4 linked regions of the Homo sapiens genome follow. The protein of the gene in region 4 interacts with the protein of the main gene of each other region in a pairwise test. Each region holds a gene or a part of one and is shown on either strand. Other genes may lie near its edges.

What was found. Proteins that work in one complex are often made in the same cells at the same time.
Region 1: the proteins of NEK7 (region 4) and SPRED2 interact in binary tests that used the Homo sapiens proteins (3 or more experiments, as listed by UniProt).
Region 2: the proteins of NEK7 (region 4) and NFATC2IP interact in binary tests that used the Homo sapiens proteins (3 or more experiments, as listed by UniProt).
Region 3: the proteins of NEK7 (region 4) and RAP1B interact in binary tests that used the Homo sapiens proteins (3 or more experiments, as listed by UniProt).

The regions. Positions count from the first base shown.
Region 1 is NC_000002.12:65,334,712-65,339,792, forward strand, and holds part of SPRED2 (sprouty-related, EVH1 domain-containing protein 2), read right to left. Parts: intron 63-5,081; coding exon 1-62. UniProt on the Homo sapiens protein: Negatively regulates Ras signaling pathways and downstream activation of MAP kinases. Recruits and translocates NF1 to the cell membrane, thereby enabling NF1-dependent hydrolysis of active GTP-bound Ras to inactive GDP-bound Ras.
Region 2 is NC_000016.10:28,956,244-28,961,324, reverse strand, and holds part of NFATC2IP (NFATC2-interacting protein), read right to left. Parts: coding exon 4,988-5,081; intron 2,743-4,987; exon of another isoform or gene 2,664-2,742; intron 2,609-2,663; coding exon 2,464-2,608; intron 2,335-2,463; coding exon 2,225-2,334; intron 1-2,224. UniProt on the Homo sapiens protein: In T-helper 2 (Th2) cells, regulates the magnitude of NFAT-driven transcription of a specific subset of cytokine genes, including IL3, IL4, IL5 and IL13, but not IL2.
Region 3 is NC_000012.12:68,668,706-68,672,789, reverse strand, and holds the end of RAP1B (ras-related protein Rap-1b isoform 1 precursor), read right to left. Parts: 3' UTR 889-4,084; downstream 1-888. UniProt on the Homo sapiens protein: GTP-binding protein that possesses intrinsic GTPase activity. Contributes to the polarizing activity of KRIT1 and CDH5 in the establishment and maintenance of correct endothelial cell polarity and vascular lumen.
Region 4 is NC_000001.11:198,158,992-198,164,447, reverse strand, and holds part of NEK7 (serine/threonine-protein kinase Nek7), read right to left. Parts: intron 1-5,456. UniProt on the Homo sapiens protein: Protein kinase which plays an important role in mitotic cell cycle progression. Required for microtubule nucleation activity of the centrosome, robust mitotic spindle formation and cytokinesis.

The DNA of each region.
Region 1 (5,081 bases), on a different chromosome or scaffold from region 4:
TGAAACGTTGGATTGGCTTTGGTGTAGACCAAGTCCTTTCTTACATAGCATTCCAATACCACCTGAAGGATGGAAACACACAGGCTGGTTACTAGTGGAACAGCCATGATGATGTCTGGTTACAGAAGTCTAATTAGGAACCATCACTGGTGGCAACTACCAAAACCCCTCTAACCCCTGCCTTCACATATCTGTGAGTCTCTCCAATGGGAAAGGAGGCTTTGCTTGGCTGCTGACCATCCGATCTTCGCTGCTCCCCACTGTCCTGGTTGTACCCCTTCACTACACTCTCTTCATCACGGTTATTCCTCTTCCTCCTGGCTGCAGGGCACTAAGTTGATGCTCAGGTCTTGGGTCTTGGCTGTATTTCAGATTACTGCTTTTATGTTGGGGTTTTTATATTGATGGTCATCTAGCTTCCCTCCCCCGAGGCTCCAAATTCCAAAAGTTGAAAAATTAACTTTACTCTAAAATTTCTCCTCTCCCAACTTCTGGCAATACCAATCCCTCTCCACTCTTTTTCTCTGGCTCATCATCTCTGTGGTCATCTTTGCCTCCTCTGCCTATCTCCTGTATTATTAATCACCAGGTCCATTTCATTTTTCCTTCAACAGCTTTTATATCAACCCCATTTCAGTTGCTGCCACCCTGATCTGGGTCTCTATTAACTTTATGTTTGGATTAATAGAACAATATTCAAGTTTCTAGCAATTTAATCTCAGAACTGGCTTTTACTGAGTTGTAATGAGTAGATTGATCTTTTTATCTCTAAGATGGAAAGAACACCAATGTTATCAATGAGAACAAGAACATGCTCTGAAAACACTGAATAAATGAGAAACCTAATTCACATTCATTGTCCAGTATATCTTCCCTGTCAAGTTTTATATGTACTCCAATTCTCCTTCTTGTCATCTTCACAATTTAGTACCTGATTTCAAACTATTCTTTAACAGTTTCATGTGTATTAGTCTTGTTCCCCTAACTAGACTACAAAAAGTCAAGATTATAAAATAACCCCGTCTAGCACAGTTGATAGAGATACTAGAATTTATTTAATATTATAGAAAAGAAACATTGCAATAATTTGAACGTAAACTTCATTCTTTATTCATTAAAAAACTCAGACTACTTACAATATTTATTCCTATGGCTTCATTACAAACACCATAATGATTTTGCTAAGTTTTAATAGCCCAATCTTGTTCTGGCAAAGATCTGCATTTACCGCAATGTGATCTTATTAATTTAGACTAAATGAAGGACAAGAGTAAAGACCTGCCTAAATTAGTATACAGATAAATTAGAGAATATCTTTAAATAAGTATAAATTCTAAGAATAGATCAAAGCAAAAAGAAGGAGGCCAGTACAGTGGCTCATGCCTGTAATCCCAGCACTTTTGGGGGCTGAGGCAAGAGGATCACTTGAGCCCAGGAGTTTGAGACCAGCCTGGGCAACATGGCAGGACCCTGTCTCTAACTAAAATACAAAAATTAGCTGGGTGTGGTGGCACACATCTGTAGTCCCAGCTACTCAGGAGATTGAGGTGGGAGGAACGCTTGAGCCTGGGAGGCTGAGGCTGCAGTGAGCTGAGAAGGTGCACCACTACACTCCAGCCCAGGTGACAGAGTGAGACTCTGTCTCAACAAAAGGAAAAAACAAACGAGAAATAAATTAAGGGTTGTCTAATGAATGTTCCCTAACTTAATAAAAAAATGAGAATAATATTCAAATTGGTATATCAAATAGTAGTCCCAAGCAGTTAACTTTATTACATTGTATTGAGATCGGACAACAGTTCCCTCCCATAATTCTATTTATGATTAAATTGCTTATTATAGCCATTTCCCCCTAAGAATAGCACAATGATTAAATGTCAGCCCAGCCCCATTCCACATTGGGGAAATCCAAATAATCAAGAATTTAACAAATGTTATCTATTTTAGAATTTAATAGTCTCAATTCAAAGTCTCAAAATAAACTTTTTGTATTCTAAAAACAAAGACTCCTAGTTTCTCCATATTTTGGGGGTGAAAAAATTAGTCTTTGGTTGATATTTTCCAACTTTGAAATTATTCCAAAGGTACATTTTCTTAGAAAAGTTTAAGTAAAATGGCCGGGCGCGGTGGCTCACGCCTGTAATACCAGCCCTTTGGGAGGCCGAGGCGGGCGGATCATGAGGTCAGGAGATCGAGACCATCGTGGCTAACACGGTGAAACCTCATCTCTACTAAAAATACAAAAAATTAGCCGGGCATGGTGGCGGGCACCTGTAGTCCCAGCTACTAGGGAGGCTGAGGCAGGAGAATAGCGTGAACCCGGGAGGCGGAGCTTGCAGTGGGCCGAGATCGTGCCACTGCAGTCCAGCCTGGGCGAAAGAGCAAGACTCTGTCTCAAAAAAAAAATAAAGTTTGAGTAAAATAAGTTCAGCCACCTAAATTAAGTGAGGGGGGAAATCAGATACCATCTCTTTATGTCCTCTAAAGCAAAATAGTATCATATGTATCTAAGTTTAAAGACAAAAATGAAAAGGTTTTAGATGCTTTAATCTTCCCAACAGATATAAACTCTCTGGTGAAGTTTTGGCACGCACACAATTAGACACTAACTTAAAACTTGAGAAAGGCTTTAAAAAATACCCGTTTAAATAAGATGCATACGGAGAAAAAAAGTGATTATGTTCTTGTTCGAGACTTGAAAAAAAAAACTACACAAGAAATACATGTTGTGGGAGATTTAAGTATTAGCTGAAGACATGAGGACTCCATTCCTACTCATCTCTCCCCTCCACCGTCAACATCCCTCTCTGTCGAGTTCCCCACTGTCAGTAGAGCGGGCACAATCCCAGTTTCCATTTTGTGGCTTCTTTACATATACACAGGTAAGTTTCTGTGTAAGGGCAACTGTGTTTAAATGTAGCCACACCTATAAGTTGTTTTTAACTTGCTTTTTATTTTCCTTAAAAATATGTCATAGAGATACAGGAAGGTAAAATAATTGTTTAATTCATCTGTATGGATGTATTAGATTTATTCAACCATTCTCCATACTAACGGACATTTATGTCAGTAAGAATTGGTCACCTTGAAGGCAATGCTGCAATTTACATCCTTATCTATATTTGAAGTATAAATTAGAATTCTAGACAGCTTCCTGGTACTTAAAGACTTTTCTAATGAGTCAGTGGCAATATTAAAAAATGTAGTTTTTTTGATATTAATGAGTCAGTGGCGATATTAAGAAATGTAGTTTTTTTATATTAATGAGTTAGTGGCAATACTAAGAAATGTAGTTTTTTGATATTATAGAATAAAATGTATCAACATTTGGAAGATCTGCTTAACTCAGTGGAGCACTATTTTTCAGGTGACCAGTGCATGATGTTACAAAATCAGGGATGAGTAAGAGATCTATTGAAAGTGAAAGAGTCCCTCTCCCTCTCCCGTCTCCCTCTCCCGTCTCCCGTCTCCCTCTCCCTCTCCCGTCTCCCTCTCCCTCTCCCGTCTCCCTCTCCCTCTCCCGTCTCCCTCTCCCGTCTCCCTCTCCCTCTCCCGTCTCCCTCTCCCTCTCCCGTCTCCCTCTCCCTCTCCCGTCTCCCTCTCCCTCTCCTTTCCACGGTCTCCCTCTCATGCCGGGCCAAAGCTGGACTGTACTGCTGCCATCTCGGCTCGCTGCAGCCTCCCTGCCTGATTCTCCTGCCTCAGCCTGCCGAGTGCCTGCGATTGCAGGCGCGCGCCGCCACGCCTGACTGGTTTTTGTGTTTTTTTGGTGGGGACGGGGTTTCGCTGTGTTGGCCGGACTGGTCTCCAGCTCCTAGCCGCGAGTGATCCGCCAGCCTCGGCCTCCCGAGGTGCCGGGATTGCAGACGGAGTCTCATTCACTCAGTGCTCAATGGTGCCCAGGCTGGAGTGCAGTGGCGTGATCTCGGCTCGCTACGGCCTCCACCTCCCAGCCGCCTGCCTTGGCCCCCCAAAGTGCGGAGATTGCAGCCTCTGCCCGGCCGCCACCCCGTCTGGGAAGTGAGGAGCGTCTCTGCCTGGCTGCCCATCGTCTGGGATGTGAGGAGCCCCTCTGCCTGGCTGCCCAGTCTGGAAAGTGAGGAGCGTCTCTGCCCGGCCGCCATCCCACCTGGGAAGTGAGGAGCGCCTCCTCCCGGCCGCCATCCCATCTAGGAAGTGAGGAGCGTCTCTGCCCGGCAGCCCATCGTCTGAGATGTGGGGAGCGCCTCTGCCCCGCCGCCCCGTCCGGGAGGTGAGGGGCGCCTCTGCCCGGCGGCCCCTACTGGGAAGTGAGGAGCCCCTCTGGCCGGCCAGCCGCCCCGTCCGGGAGGGAGGTGGGGGGCTCAGCCCCCCGCCGGGCCAGCCGCTCCGTCCGGGAGGGAGGTTGGGCGGGGGGTCAGCGCCCCCTCCCGGCCAGCCGCCCGGTCCAGGAGCTGAGGGGCGCCTCTGCCCGGCCGCCCCTACTGGGAGGTGGGGAGCCCCTCTGCCCAGCCACCACCCCGTCTGGGAGGTGTGCCCAACAGCTCATTGAGAATGGGCCATGATGACGATGGCGGTTTTCTGGAATGGAAGGGGGGGCAGGGTGGGGAAAGGATTGAGAAATCGGATGGTTGCCGTGTCTGTGTAGAAAGAAGTAGACATGGGCGACTTTTCATTTTGTTTTGTACCAAGAAAAATTCTTCTGCCTTGGGATCCTGTTGATCTATGACCTTACCCCCAACCCTGTGCTCTCTGAAACATGTGCTGTGTCCACTCAGGGTTAAATGGATTAAGGGCGGTGCAAGATGTGCTTTGTTAAACAGATGCTTGAAGGCAGCATGCTCGTTAAGAGTCATCACCACTCCCTAATCTCAAGTACCCAGGGACACAAACACTCTGCCTAGGAAAACCAGAGACCTTTGTTCACTTGTTTGTCTGCTGACCTTCCCTCCACTAGTGTCCTATGACCCTGCCAAATCCCCCTCTGTGAGAAACACCCAAGAATGATCAATAAAAAATAAAATAAAATTAAAAAAAAATCCTAAAAAAAAAAAAAAGAAAGTGAAAGATAAACCAGTGGGTGGTAATGTAACAGAGTATGA
Region 2 (5,081 bases), on a different chromosome or scaffold from region 4:
AGATAGGGTCTTGCTGTCTCCCAGGCTGGAGTGCAGTGGCCCAATCTCAGCTCACTGCAGCCTCAATCTCCTAGGCACAAGCGATCCTCACACCTCAGCCTCCTGGGTAGCTGGAACTATAGGCCTGCGCCAGCATGCTGGGCTAATTTTTGTATTTTTTGTAGAGGCAGGGTTTCACTATGTTGCCCGGGCTGGTCTTGAACTCCTGAGCTCAAGCAATCTGTCCATGTTGGCCTCTCAAAGTGTTAGGATTACAGATGTGAGGCACTGTGCCTGGCCAAAGCTGCAAGAATTTTGAGGTGTATGTTAGGAAAAACCTAGACTGCCTTGAAGAGACTGCTGGTAGAAATATGGACATTAAAGGGAATGTCCCTGCAGGCTCACAAAGAGGAGAGGTGCAGAGAAATCTCCTATCATCTTAACAGGATGCATATATTGTTATGAACAGAAGGCTGCTAGAAATATGAATATTAAAGGTGTTTCTGGTGAGGTCTCTGGAGGAAATGAGGAATGTGTTATTGGTAACTGGAATAAAAGTTTCCAATAAAGGTGGCGCAATCATGGCTCACTACAACCTTGATCTCCCAGGCTCAAGCAATCCTCCTGCCTCAGCCGCCTGGGGAGCTAGGATTACAGGTGCTGGGGTTACAGGTGTGAGCCACTGCACCTGGCCCAATTTCTCACTTTTGAAATGGGAATGTCTATCCTATGTCTGTCCCATCACTGTATTTTAGAAGCAAATAACTTATTTTCTAGATTTCACGGGTCCGCAGAGAGAGAGAGAGAGGAATTTTGTCCCAGAATGGACCATACCAAGTCTCATCCAAAACTGATTTAATGATTTAGAAAATAAGATTGGGACTTCTTGAGTTGATTATATTTAAATGAGATTTTGGGCTTAAGAGTTGATGCTGGGATGGGTTAAGACTTGTAGGGATATTGGAATGGGATGTATATATTTTGCAGATGGGAAGGCCATGAATTTGGTGGGGGCTAGAGAACAGTGTGTTAAGGGTTGAACTGTATTCCCCTGAAAAGGCACTTTGTGGTCCTAACCCCTAGTAAATGTGAATGTAACCTTATTTAAAGTAGGGACTTTGCAGATATAATCAAGTTGAGATGAGGTTGTGCTTGGTTAGAGTGGGGCTAGCCCAACATGACCTATGTCTTTCCAAGAAGAGAGACGAACACAGACAGAGACACATGGAGAACACCGTGTGATCACAGAGGGAGAGACTGGAGTGACACAGCTGCAAGCCAAGGAACTCTGGCCACCAGCAGAAGCTAGAAAGAGGTAAGGAAGGTTTCCACTCAGATTCTCAGACGGAACCAGGCCCTGCCAACACCTTCAATTCAGACTTCTAGGCTCCAGAAGTGTACAGGAATAGGTTTCTATTGTTTTAAGCCACCCAATTTGTGTATTTCGTTAACAGTAGACTTAAGAAATGAATGCAGCAGGCCAGGCGCGGTGGCTCACACCTGTAATCCCAACACTTTGGGAGGCCAAGGTGGGTGGCTCACTTGAGGTCAGGAGTTTGAGACCAGCCTGGCCAACATGGTGAAACCCTGTCTCTACTAAAAATGCAAAAATTAGCCCAGCACGTGCACCTGTAATCCCAGCTACACGGGAGGCTGAGGAAAGAGAATCACTTGAAACTCGGAAGGCAGAGGCTGCAGTGAGCCAAGATCATGCCAGACTTCAGCCTGGGCGACAGGGCGAGACTCTATCTCAAAAAAAAAAAAAAAAAAAAAATGACTGCACCAAGTTGCTTATTCCACCTCTCTAGAACTCAATCTTCTTATTGCCAAATGAGGATAACAACAGTGCTTTGTGGCCCACATCAGATTGTTGTGAAATTAAATAAGATCCTGAATGTGAGGAAATTATCCTCAGCACGGGGACTAGCACTTAGCCGTGTGGCCTTCATTGTTATTTTGATGGGTTTTATTGATTACCGTCTAAGGGTCCTTTCTGTTTTAATCAGAAGGAGTCAGGAGACCGAGGGAGCACCCAGACTAGGGCAGAGGGTACCAGTAGAAGCGGGGAGGGAAGTTGAACGATGGGTTTTCCCACTACCTAGGATGGCTGGGAACCCAAGAACATGGAGGGCAGTGTCTCCTGCAAGTCAAGATTAGGGGAATCCATCCTCCATTAACTGACAAGAGAGACAAGAGGCAGCAGAGGACAGGGTGAGGGGCGTGGAGAGCCATCTCTCCCACTCACTCGAGACAGTGAGACTTCCAGTGTCTGGTGTTTCTCCTTTCCCTGCACCCGGAGCTGGAGCTGTTGGGACGTCTCTGTGGCCTCTGGAGAACTTGTTAGTACCACACAGTCTGTGGGAGGCAGAATCAGGAAGCCAGGGCTAAGTGGGGGCTTGGAAGCAGGGCCCGTGCTGAACCTCTCCCCATATCCCCTTCCCCTGGCAAATGCCTCAAGGCCCCACCTCCCTGCCTTCCTCTCACCAATGATGTCAGCCACTCCGAGCTTTAGGGTCCTGGGAGTGGCAGTAGGTGATAGCTCTGTCTCTCCAAAAAGCAAAAGGATCCTGCTTGGGGACACCCCAAGGTGGGTGGCCATGTGGTCCACCACACTCTGCAGGGGCTCCGACTAGGGATGGGGACAACAAGCAAAAGAGGTCTTCCTGCCTTGAAATCCATGCCCCCAGCCACACCACCCAAACACAAGCTCTGGCCTTAGCTACTTGCTAAGCTCCTCAGCTGTGAGTTTCATCATATTTACCTGGCAAGGTATAGAATAAAATCGTGTCAGCAAGGGGTACAGGCGAGTAACACAAAGAAATATAGCAGCCATGGGTTAGAACAAAGAAAGGGGTGGTGGGGATTGCAGCAAACTGGAATTCACATGCCACCTAGACAGGCTGGCTGTTACGCAGCTCCAGCTGATTGGCACTGTGTGGGAACGTGGGCCAGTATGACATCTTCCTATATTTTTCTTTTTTTTTTTTTTGAGACGGAGTTTCGCTCTTGTTAACCAGGATGGAGTGTAGTGGCGCAATCTCAGCTCACTGCAACCTCCGCCTCCCAGGTTCAAGTGATTCTCCTACCAGGCTGGTCTTGAACTCTTGAATTCGGGTGATCCACCTGCCTCGGCCTCCCAAACTACAGGGATAACAGGTGTGAGCCACCGCACCTGGCCACATCTTCTTATTTTTTAAGAGAAGCCAGAAATCTGGACCTTTTTTTTTTCTTTCTATTTTTAGTAGAGGCGGGCTTCACCATATTGGCCAGGCTGGTCTTGAACTCCTGATCTCAGGTGAGATCTGAGGCAGAGTCTCGCTCTTTCATCCAGGCTGGAAGGCAGTGGCACCATGCCCAGCTAATTTTTGTATTTTTAGTAGAGATGGGGTTTCACCATGTTGGCTAGGCTGGTCTCGAACTCCTGACCTCAGGTGATCTGCCTGCCTTCACCTCCCAAAAGTGCTGGGATTACAGGCGTGAGGCACTGCACCCGGCCAGAAATCTGGACCTTTGTATGAAATCACCCATCACAAAGGTGACAACAAACTCGTATATTTTTAAAGCACTTGGTCAGGCATGATGGCTCACACCTATAATCCCAGCATTTTGAGAGGCCGAGGCGGGAGGTTTGCTTGAGGTCAGGAGTTCAAGATCAGCCTGAGCAACAAAGCAAGATCCCATCTCCATTTTTTTTTTTTTTTAAGAGACAAGGTCTTGCTCTCTCACCCAGGCTGCAGTGCAGTGGCATGATCACAGCTGACTGCAGCCCCCAACTCCTGGACTCAGAAGATCCTCTTGCATCAGCCTCCCAAGTCGCTGGGACTACAGGTATGTGCCACCATGCCTGGTTAATTTTTTTATTTTTAGTAGAGACAAGGTCTCACTATTTTGCCCAGGCTGGTCTCGAACTCCTGGCCTCAAGTGATCCTCTCACCTTGGCCTCCCAAAGTGCTGGGATTACAGGAATGAGCCACCATGCCTGGCCCCCATCTCTATGTTTAAAAAATAAAATAGGCCAGGCACGGTGGCTCATGCCTGTAATCCCAACACTTTGGGAAGCTGAGACAGGGGAACACTTGAGATCAGGAGTTCAAGACCAGCCTGGCCAATATGGTGAAGCCCTGCCTCCACTAAAAATACATAAATTAGTCGGGCATGGTGGCGGGCACCTGTAGTCCAAGCTACTCGGGAGGCTGAGGTGGGAGAATCGCCTGAACCTGGGAGGCGGAGGTTTCAGTGAGCAGAGATCGTGCCACTGCACTCCAGCCTAGGCGACAGAGTGAGACCCCGTCTCAAAAAATAAAAATAATAAAAAATAATAAAATAAAATAAAATAAGTCTACAAAGAAAGCAGACACACTGTTGGAAAAGCCATGGGCTGCCAGTTTGCAGCCTCTGCCTTAGTTGCTTGACTGATGCACTGTGCATCAGTAATGGTAATGTCTGTTATCATTCCTGGTGTTGAAACAGGGTCATCCCTACAAAAATATCAGGCTTCGCCAGGAAGCTGGTGGAGTTCAGGGTGACTGAGTGACATCTGCTGTGTCCAGGGCAGTGAGAGCAAGCCCAGGAGGGAAGCCCAGGTTCCTAGGGAGGAAGGCAAGAGAGACTACCAAAAAAAGCTTCTTAGAAGACAGGATGCTTCACACCTGGAATCCCAGCACTTTGGGAGGTCAATGAGGGACGATCACTTGAGCCCAGGAGTTCGGAACCAGCCTGGACACAGTAAGACCACTTTTTGAAGGAAAAAAAAAGACACAGGATGCTTATGAGGAGCCTTGAAGAATGGGTAGAAAGTTTGCCAGAAAGAGAGGGGAGCGTTGGGAAAATGCAGACAGAGGAAACAAAAAGTGTGAAGGCAGGACAGACTGAAAAGAATGATGGGCAGCTCTAGAGAGCAGGATGGGAAAAGGATGACAGTCCCTTCTGCCAGGACACCCCTGCTGGACACCACCATCTCTCCAGAAGCAGCTCCTGGGTCCTTCTCCCATGGGCCTCAGGCACTCACCATCCTGAGGGGCAATCTGACCAGGTCAGCCCGGCAACGGATTTTGAGTGGGAAGAGTCGGGGGGTCTCTGGGAGGGTGGGCCCTTCCACCAAG
Region 3 (4,084 bases), on a different chromosome or scaffold from region 4:
AGGTGTCTTTAATTTTTTTTTTGAGACAGAGTCTTGCTCTATTGCCCAGGCTGGAGTACAGTGGCGTGATCATGGCTCACTGCAGCTTTGATCTCCTGGGCTCAGCCTCCTGGGTGGCTGGAACCACAGGCATGTGCCCCCGCATCCAGCTAATTTTTAAATTTTTTGTAGAGCTAGAGTCTCCCTATGTTGCCCAGGCTGGTCTTGAACTCCTGGGCTCAAGTGATCCTCTTGCCTCAGCCTCCCAAAGCACTGGGATTATAGGCATGAGCCACCACACCTAGCCAAGGTGTTATTTTAACAATGGAAAATGTAGTATATTTAGTTCATAAATCAAGAGCACAAACGGACTTAAAATATTTCAAGTATATTTTGAGCTACAAACATATTGGCATATAAGAGCAAACTATGCGGCTTTTATAAATGGAAGTGCATTGAAAAGCATAAAATGATGGAATACATATTGACAATGCAATATAATGTTAAGAAAAAGTTGCGTCTATCATGAACATTGCCCTTGAAACTTGTTTAGAAGCTGAATCTGCTGCAAAAAGGGCATTTGGGAAATCTGTGCTTCAGAATCCATCCTGCCTACCTATTTGCAACTTTAAATGATTGAGTTTAACTTTTAGGAAACCCAACATCCTAGAGAAGTCTTTCTGCTTCTTTGTCCTTCACAAGATCAACTGAAGTTCTCTAGCTGTGTAAAAAGGCTGAATTTCAGGTAATGAAAGAAAGTTAAACTGCTTTGGTTTTTTGAATTATTTTCTTGTTTAAATATAAGGTTTAAGTATAATGACAATTATTTTTAAATTTCTAAAATTAATTTTACTCAAAGATAGCATAACAATGTTAAGGAAAAGGAAATAATAATACAGTCATCCATGATACTGTTGCCAGCACCATAATTTTTATTAATGCATATTATCCTCCCATGTATTTTACATTCATATTTTACATATAATGATGACATTCATATAGCTTTTTTTTTTATATTCCAGAAAATGTTATTTACTTGTTACTGACAATGTCTCTTCTAGACGAGTCATCCTGTTTTTTCTCCCGCTGTTGTACTTTTGCTTTTCTTTTTCCACCTACTCAGATCCTTCACTTCCTCACCCCTACTCCTATATCACCATGTCAGGTAATGCATATTAACAACTTGGTAAATATCCTTCAGTTGCTTTCTTCATCTCCTTTCCCAGGTGCCCACATGCATCCCTCACATACATCCTTCTCGGTATTCTGTTTTGTTCACTTTGCACGGGAATCCTTCTAAGTCAACCTTTAAACATCAAACTCATTTTTAAATGAATGCATAATGTTCTATATTATGCATGAATCATAATTTATTCAACTATTCTATTGATGGGCATGCACTCTGTTTTTCCTTCTAGAGTGTGGCAATAAATAATCTTGTGCATTTCCTTTCATTTCCTTGGTGTAGATATCAGTAGTAGAATTGAGGTCAAATATGCATATTTAATTTGAACAGATATCAGCTCTACAATGCACATTTCCATCAGCAATAAATGATTCATTTCTTGCCCTTTACCTCTCTTCTGGGACTGTAGTGTTCTCTGAAGTTTTCGTCCATGTGTTGGGCTCGTTGGTACTTTGATTCGTATTTCTCTGGCTACAGTTAGAGCATCTTTTTATGTTGATGGGCCATTTGGATTTGTTCTTATCTAAACTGCCTAGTTATATATCTTTCAACCATTTATCTTTTGAATAGTTTACCTTTTTTTTTTTTTTTTTTTTTAAACGGAGTATCACTCTTGTTGCCCAGGCTGGAGTGCAATGGCACCATCTTGGCTCACTGCAACTTTCGCCTCCTAGGTTCAAGCAATTCTCCTGCCTCAGCCTCCTGAGTAGCTAGGATTACAGGCATGCACCACCACACCCAGCTAATTTTGTATTTTTAGTAGAGATGGGGTTTCTCCACGTTGGCCAGGCTAGTCTCAAACTCCTGACCTCAGGTGATCCACCCGCCTCGGCCTCCCAAAGTGTTGGGATTACAGGCATGATCCACCGTGCCTGGCCGTGAATAGTTTAATCTTTTATCTGTGCTATACTTTCCCAAATTTGACTTTGCAATATATTTTGCCAAATTTTAAATTTATATATACAGTCTGTGACTTACAGTTTTACTTATAATTTTTCAGCTTTGTGATGGATTTATCAGGGTATTAAATGCATTTTCGACTTACATTTTTGACTTCTGATGGGCTTATTGGGACATAACCCCATTGTAAGCTGAGAAGCATCTGTGTGTACACACACACACACTTATTATTTACTTGAAATATATATCTTAAATATAGCTTCATTTTTAAAAATTAGCTAAGAAGGTCTACCCTATCTCTAGATTTCTAGTCTCTTAGATTTTCTTCTAAGACTTCTACTGTTTTACTTTATAGCTTGAAAACATTTTAATATATCTGGAAAGTGCTTTTTGCATGATATAGGGGTTGAACTTTTATTGTCTTTAGACAGATAGTTAGTTGTGCTAGCATTTTACTGATACTATTTTCTATTGAAATATATTTTTGTCGGCCGGGCACAGTGGCTCACACCTGTAATCCCAGTACTTTGGGAGGCTGAGGCGGGCAGATGACCTGAGGTTGGGAGTTCGCAACTAGCCTGACCAACATGGAGAAACCCCATCTCTACTAAAATACAAAATTAGCCCAGGCGTGGTGGCACATGCCTGTAATCCCAGCTACTCGGGAGGCTGAGGCAGGAGAATCACTTGAACCTGGGAGGCGGAGGTTGTGGTGAACCAAGATCGTGCCATTATACTCCAGTCTGGGCAACAAGAGGGAAACTGTCTCAAAAAAAAAAAAAAAAAAAAGAAAGAAAAAGAAATATATTTTTGTCACGTATAAACGTCATATACTGGAATCTAGTTCTGGACTCAGTTCTACTCTACTCTTTCACTTGAACTTTAAGATCATTTTGCTTAATTTCTTTTCTTTTTTCTTTTTCTTGAGATAGAGATTTGCTCTGTCACCCAGGCTGGAGTGCAGTGGTACAATCTCAGCTACTGCACCCTCTGCCTCCTGGGTTCAAGCGATTCTCCTGCCTCAGCCTCCAGAGTAGCTGGGATTACAGGCACCTGCCACCATGCCTGGCTAATTTTTGTATTTTTAGTAGAGACGGGGTTTCACCATGTTAGCCAGGATGGTCTCCATCTCCTGACCTCGTGATCCGCCCCCCTCGGCCTCCGAAAGTGCTGGGATTACAGGTGTGAGCCACCGTGCCCGGCCCATTTTGCTTAATTTCAATTTCAAAACCTCACCCAAGTCTGGCACGGTGGCTCATGCCTATAATCCACTTTGGGAGGCCAAGGTGTGACACTTGCTTGAGCCCAGGAGTTCAAGACCAACATCCAGTCTATTAAAAAATCAAAAACAAAAACAAAGCCTCAGCCAGTTGAAATTTAAATTGTAATCATTATACATTAACATGCTAATTTGGGGGAATTGATATTTTTATGATATTATCTTCCCAGTGTATTTGTTCAGATCTTGATTTATGTCCTTCAATAAGAGTTTATAATAGTTCTTTCTTAGCCTTATACCTTAAGGCATTTAGTTTTTATCTGTCGTGTTTACTATATCAACTTGTAGGTATTTTTTATAAATATAAAGAAAAGCTATTGATTTTTGGCATGCTTATCTTATATCCAGCCAAGTTCCTGAATACTTCTAATAGATTTTTTTGAGCTTTCAAGGTATTCACTTATAATACAAGCAAAAGTAATTTTATTTTCCAGTGTCTATATTTAACATTTCATTCTTTTGATATAATGCATTCATTAGCTCTATTAGGAGACTCAGCCCCTATTTCATAGCATTGCTGAGGGTTGAACAACACATGTAAAGTGCTTAGAGCAATGGTGGCACATCTTAGGGTGTCCAAGAAATAACTAGTATTATTTCCCAACTATCAGAGCTTATCAGATCTTTAATCTAGAAATGTCACTTTCAAGCAGTATCAAGCCAAATAACTGAATAAGTAAGCTATCATTTGCTGGTTTTTCTTATTCTTTCATCATTCCTCATTTTAAATGAATTTGAGG
Region 4 (5,456 bases):
CCTGTATAGAGCTAGGGCCCACAGCATTGTTTCCTGGACCACAATAGGCAGGGTATGGTTCTAGGGTCCCCCAAATAGCAGGATTTTTCTTACTGTAACTGTGTCTTGACCAGAGCAGTGGCTGTATGGCCCTAGACCGGTGGACTTCTGATCACAGAAGAGGCAGAAACTCCCTTGGGGGCCTGGTACTGGGACATTCTGCTGGAAGCTCAAACTCCCTCACAACCATTAAATACTATTAAATGTTCAGTAACAAATTCCTTTCCACTTAAAAAAAGTGATTAGAGGAGTAAACGGGAGAACTATGTAACTAAAGACAATCTTTACTGACAGCTGATTTTTTGTTGTTGTTGTTGTTGTTGCATTTTTAGTAAAGATGGGGTTTTGTCATGTTTCCAAGGCTGGTCTCAAACTCCTGGGCTCAAGCAGTCTGCTCAGCCTCGGCCTCCAAAGCGCTGGGATTACAGGTGTGAGCCACAGTGCCCAGCCAACAGCTGATATTGTAAATACTCAAAGCCATAAAAGTGAAGGTGAAAACAATATGTCATTCAACAATAAAAAATATTTCTTAACAGTAAATACATTATTAAAACTTTATTTTAAATGCATTTTGAAAATGGAAAAAAATGTCAGTTTTCACTGAATACCACACCTACCACCAGACTACTCTAAACATATTCTAACAACAAAGACGGTGATGAGAACAAAGGAAGTCAATTTGTAGGTTGCCATGAAAAATAAGAAATAATTCGTTCCATAAACCAATCCTCCCCCCAGAAAAATCTTCTTATATAAGACCTTTCAATTTACATGTATTTATTGACTAACAAACCACACCTAGAAATAAACTGTTTGGAATAAAGATATACTATTTGCATAAAACAAATGACCTATTCTAGGTGTCTCTTTTTTTAATTTTTTTTTTATTTTTTTTAGAGACAGGGTCTCACTCTGTCACCAGGTGGGAGTGCGGTGGCATCATCACAGCTCACTGCAGCCTCGAAATCCTAGACTCAAGCCATCCTCCAGGCCCAAGCAATCCTCCTGCCTTAGCCTCCCAAGTAGCTGGGATTACAGGTGCGTGCCACCAAGCCCAACTAATTTTTTTTAAATTTTTTGTAGTGACAGGGTCTCACTATATTGATCAGGCTGGTCTTGAACTCCAGGTCTCAAGCAATCTTCCCACCTTGGCCTCCCAAAGTGCTGAGACTACAAGTATGAGCCACTGTGCCGGTATCATATCACTTTACTATATGGTCCAGCAGTTAGATATAAAGGCAATACAAGATTAGGAATTCATTACATTTTAGAAGTATAACAATTTTTCATAAACACATCTATTCAACTTTTCCAACCATAATATAAGGACATATGTCTTTGTTATGATTATAACCATAATAAAATGTATAGTAATTCACCTAGGTAAATATAAGGATATAGGGGAAATATTTCAACAATTTAAAAAAACAATTTTAAGCATGCTAGGAAGAACATTTTTAATTTTGCCAATTTTTTGAATCTGTATTTAAAGATCTTTTTGCAACTCACATTATTTGTAGTCCATAATATAACCCCCCAAGCCTCTTGTGCCTTTTTCTGCCTGAGAAACTATGGCTTGCTGGCTCTCCCCACACTCCAAAGAAAGTCATAAAAACTAACTCAAATGTAGGAACCATTAAATTTTGAATATGGAAATCACAGGGCAAAGGAAAAGGAGAATTCAAGCAGAGGAAGTGGAAATGGCAGAAGTGGGAAGCAGCCCATTAAGACAAAACTGGGCCAAGGCAGAGTGGGTGACAGGGCCTGTCATCAGAACAAACTGACAACAGGAGATGTGTTTCCCACCCCTGAAGGTCCTAAGAATAGAGAAGTAAGTGAAATGAAACTAACACTGGGCCTGCTACCATACATTTACAAAGGTATTTTCATTTACTCCTCAAGGCAACTTTATGAGTTGCGACAACTACAGTCTGAATAAAATGAGCAACTCAACCAAGGTCATAAAGTAGGCAATGACAACCCTGGAGTTTTCTGCCTAGTCTTTTCCACATCATGGTAAACACAGATAATGATAATATATGTGCAGCAGGGTCAGATAAAGAGAAGAGACTGCTTGTAGCTGGTGGCAACTAGCCAGGAATTCTGATTGTCCCAGGTCCTACCTGGGCTTCCCCGAGGGCTAAGGGGTCAAAAGTCCAGCACACACAAAACCCACTCCTGACTAGAGCTGAGAAAGTGTACTGTGTAATTTTTTCACAAAGCTGTTGCATTTTCCATTCTGCTCTATGCTACTCAGTAGCTACACCCAGGTAAGTCTACAGCTAATTCTTTTCAGAGCAAAGGTCAGAAGTACCTCTACCCCAGGCCAAACATACCTTGACTGTAGGCCCTCTGCTAAAGCACAGGCTCTTTCCAATATTTTTTACTGGGGCGGGGGAGAGTCTTTTTTGAAAGACTAAGTTAATGTTTCCTAAAAAGAAAAAAATTTGCCCAACCCCTTGCTTATGTCAAAAATTCCCTCTAAAGTAGACAAAGGTAGTCATACCAGTAGGCTTAAAATAAAAACTACTAGACAAAGAAACATATGAGTAAGTTTTGGTATGTTTCTTTGTCTAGTAGTTTTCATTTAGTAAAGACAAATGACTGACATTAGATTCTATGTCGCTTTAGTCAGAAGCAGGGAGCCACAGACAGGCATTCATTCAATGTCACAGGATAGGAGTGGGATCCTCCAGAAGCAAAGAATGGTGAAGAAACCTGAAAACATGGATAAACCTAAAAGAGGTTCTTATGCTGACAAACTCTGAAATGAAACACAAAATTTGGGAATGGACAGCTGGGTATTATTCTGAGGGAACTGTGGAAGATCAACAAATTGTCACAAGAGTCTAAGCACAAAAATAATTATAAAACGCTGTTGTGGAAAATTCCGAATCAACCCAAACATCAATGGCATAGCACCACATTTAGACCTCTGGTATTATTTTCTAGAGTGGGGGAAAGCTACCAACCTATTTGTATAAATAAAGCTTTATTTGAACACACCTATGCCCACTTGGTCAGATACTGTATTTGGCTACAATGGCAGCAGATGCAATCACAGGGCTCACAAAGCCAGAAATATTTACCATGTGATCCTTCAGAGAAAAAAATTGTGAATCACTATTCTATAAAAAAGCAGACTGGATTGAAAAAGTAGCCCTTACCCACTACCAACAGAAGACTACTAATAAGATTTACAAAAAGGCCTATTTCCATTATGTAACAGAAAACACGTATTTCTCAATTTTTATAGACCACTAAAATCAGTTTTATTCATTTATATATTGTTCCGCTTAACACTTTGATAGCTATTACAACAAAACCACTCATTGTATAACCTCATTACCTAAATAGTATGGCAGGGCAGTTATTTTGACAAAGGTTAAAAAAGAAGTTATCCTGCTCAAAAATATTAAGGAATGCTTCATGATCATCTGTCCTTCTCATTCCCACTGCCCACTGAAAAGCATGAAATATACTCTGTAAGTGTTTTCTTCAGAATAAAAAAAATTTTGTGAAAATACACAACACCTAGGAATAATCAAACTATTAATTACCAAAGGAGAATTCAGCAGTTTAGAAGTTTTATAACTCTGAGATTGAATTGTATCAATTTAAAAATTCTGAACTGCCATTATATTATACAAATGCATATATTTGATTACAATTATGTAACCAAATGTTATTCATCCATATTCCCTACAAAAATGGGTGGAGGGGGGAGAATTAAATTGAAAAAGTCTCAAAAGGGTAAAGAAATGCGTCTTAAAACATCTTGCTATATATTTACATAAATCCTGATGAAGTGCTGATAAAACAATTCGGAGCAAACAGTAATCATACATGGCATTTCCAAGACACCCTTAAGTCGTACATTAAGTTTAATATGTTTTATAGACGATGCACTGAAATACCTACCCTCGTAGTTTTCCAACAAAAATTCGAAGGGGTAAACACTTAAATGTGAATGAAACCGGGAATGAGGACAGAGTGCTGTTTTGTGCAGCTGCAGCTGCAGCTACACTGTGTATTTTTTAAATACTACACTGTGCATTTTTAAAATACCAAAGCCTATTTAAAAAAAAAAAAAAATCAAGGGAAACAAAACCTGAAAGAAATTTTGGAATTACCTACTTTTTTTTTCCCCAAAAGTGCGTAATCACTAACACTTAACTGGGCCCTGCTCTCAGGCCCAGTTCTCAGGTACCCTGAATGGTGGCGACATTTGTAATACTACAGAGGTACATTCTTAAAACATCAGATAGTTCCTAGGAAAATAGTGTTTAGTTCTGGAAACACTGTAAAAGTCTCTAATGATATCTCAGACCACATATTTAAGTGAAAAAAAGAAGTCTATATTTCAGTAAATGCGCAATAATTGAGGGGAAAAAAAAAGAATACTTAAATGTTTACAGTAAGTCAGAGCCCAAAACTATCAACTGCAAGCACCAGGAAAGATTTGGGGCATGAGGTCCTTATGAGATTAAGTACTTATTTACACAAACTGTAACTGCACTGGACTTCTGGTCATTACGATGCAATTTTTTTTTAAATTTATTAATCAGGTATGTTAGCTATAGAGGCATCAAATCTCCCCTCCTCTACTAGTACACTGCCATCATACCATATGTGCTTTCCTCATTCTTTGGGTAAGTGCTGTTTTACTGGGATGGAAATGAACTCGAAATTGTCCAGACAGGAAAATATGAAAGGGGGAAAGCAATGGTGGGTGCTACATGTATTATCTAAATAAATAAACCTAAATACTAGTTCAGACTATAAAATGAGTCTGTACGCTTAGAAATAAAGTTAGTCTTGTTAAATTGGTAAGATTTTTAACCATGGAAAGATTCCCAAGAAGTTGTGAAAACGCCTAACGATTTAGATTCTGACATTTAGTGGTTTTCATTTTCAGGTAATTTCAGAGTAAAACCCGCCTCAGTCACATGGACTATATTTAGTCTGCTGACCAACTTCGCTTCTAATCTACTATAAACTTTCAGTAGTAGTTAAGTTCTAGGTGCAGCTGAATCACGAAACGGGACACCTAGGATGGCTCAGGGAAAACTGAAGCCCCCCTCCTCCTTCCTTCCTTCCTTCCTTTCTTTCTTTCTCCAGGCTGGCCCTCAGCCTGGCGCCCCTTCCGCAGACATCCCTAGAAAAAGAACTAACGCGGCCTTCTCCGAGCCCAGGGCTGGAGTAGGAAGTACCCGCCCTCCCGAACGCGAGGTCCTGGCTGCGCATTGGCTGCGAAGGCCGTCAGTACTCCGGAGGGCGGAGCCTCCCGGCACCCAGCGGAATTTCAGGCCCGCACCTCCGGGAGGGTCCTCCGGGCTCCCGGGCTCCTTCCTCCCCCTTAACACTACCCCCGCACACACACCGGCCCCGAGAAGGCAACTAGCCTCCTCAAACGG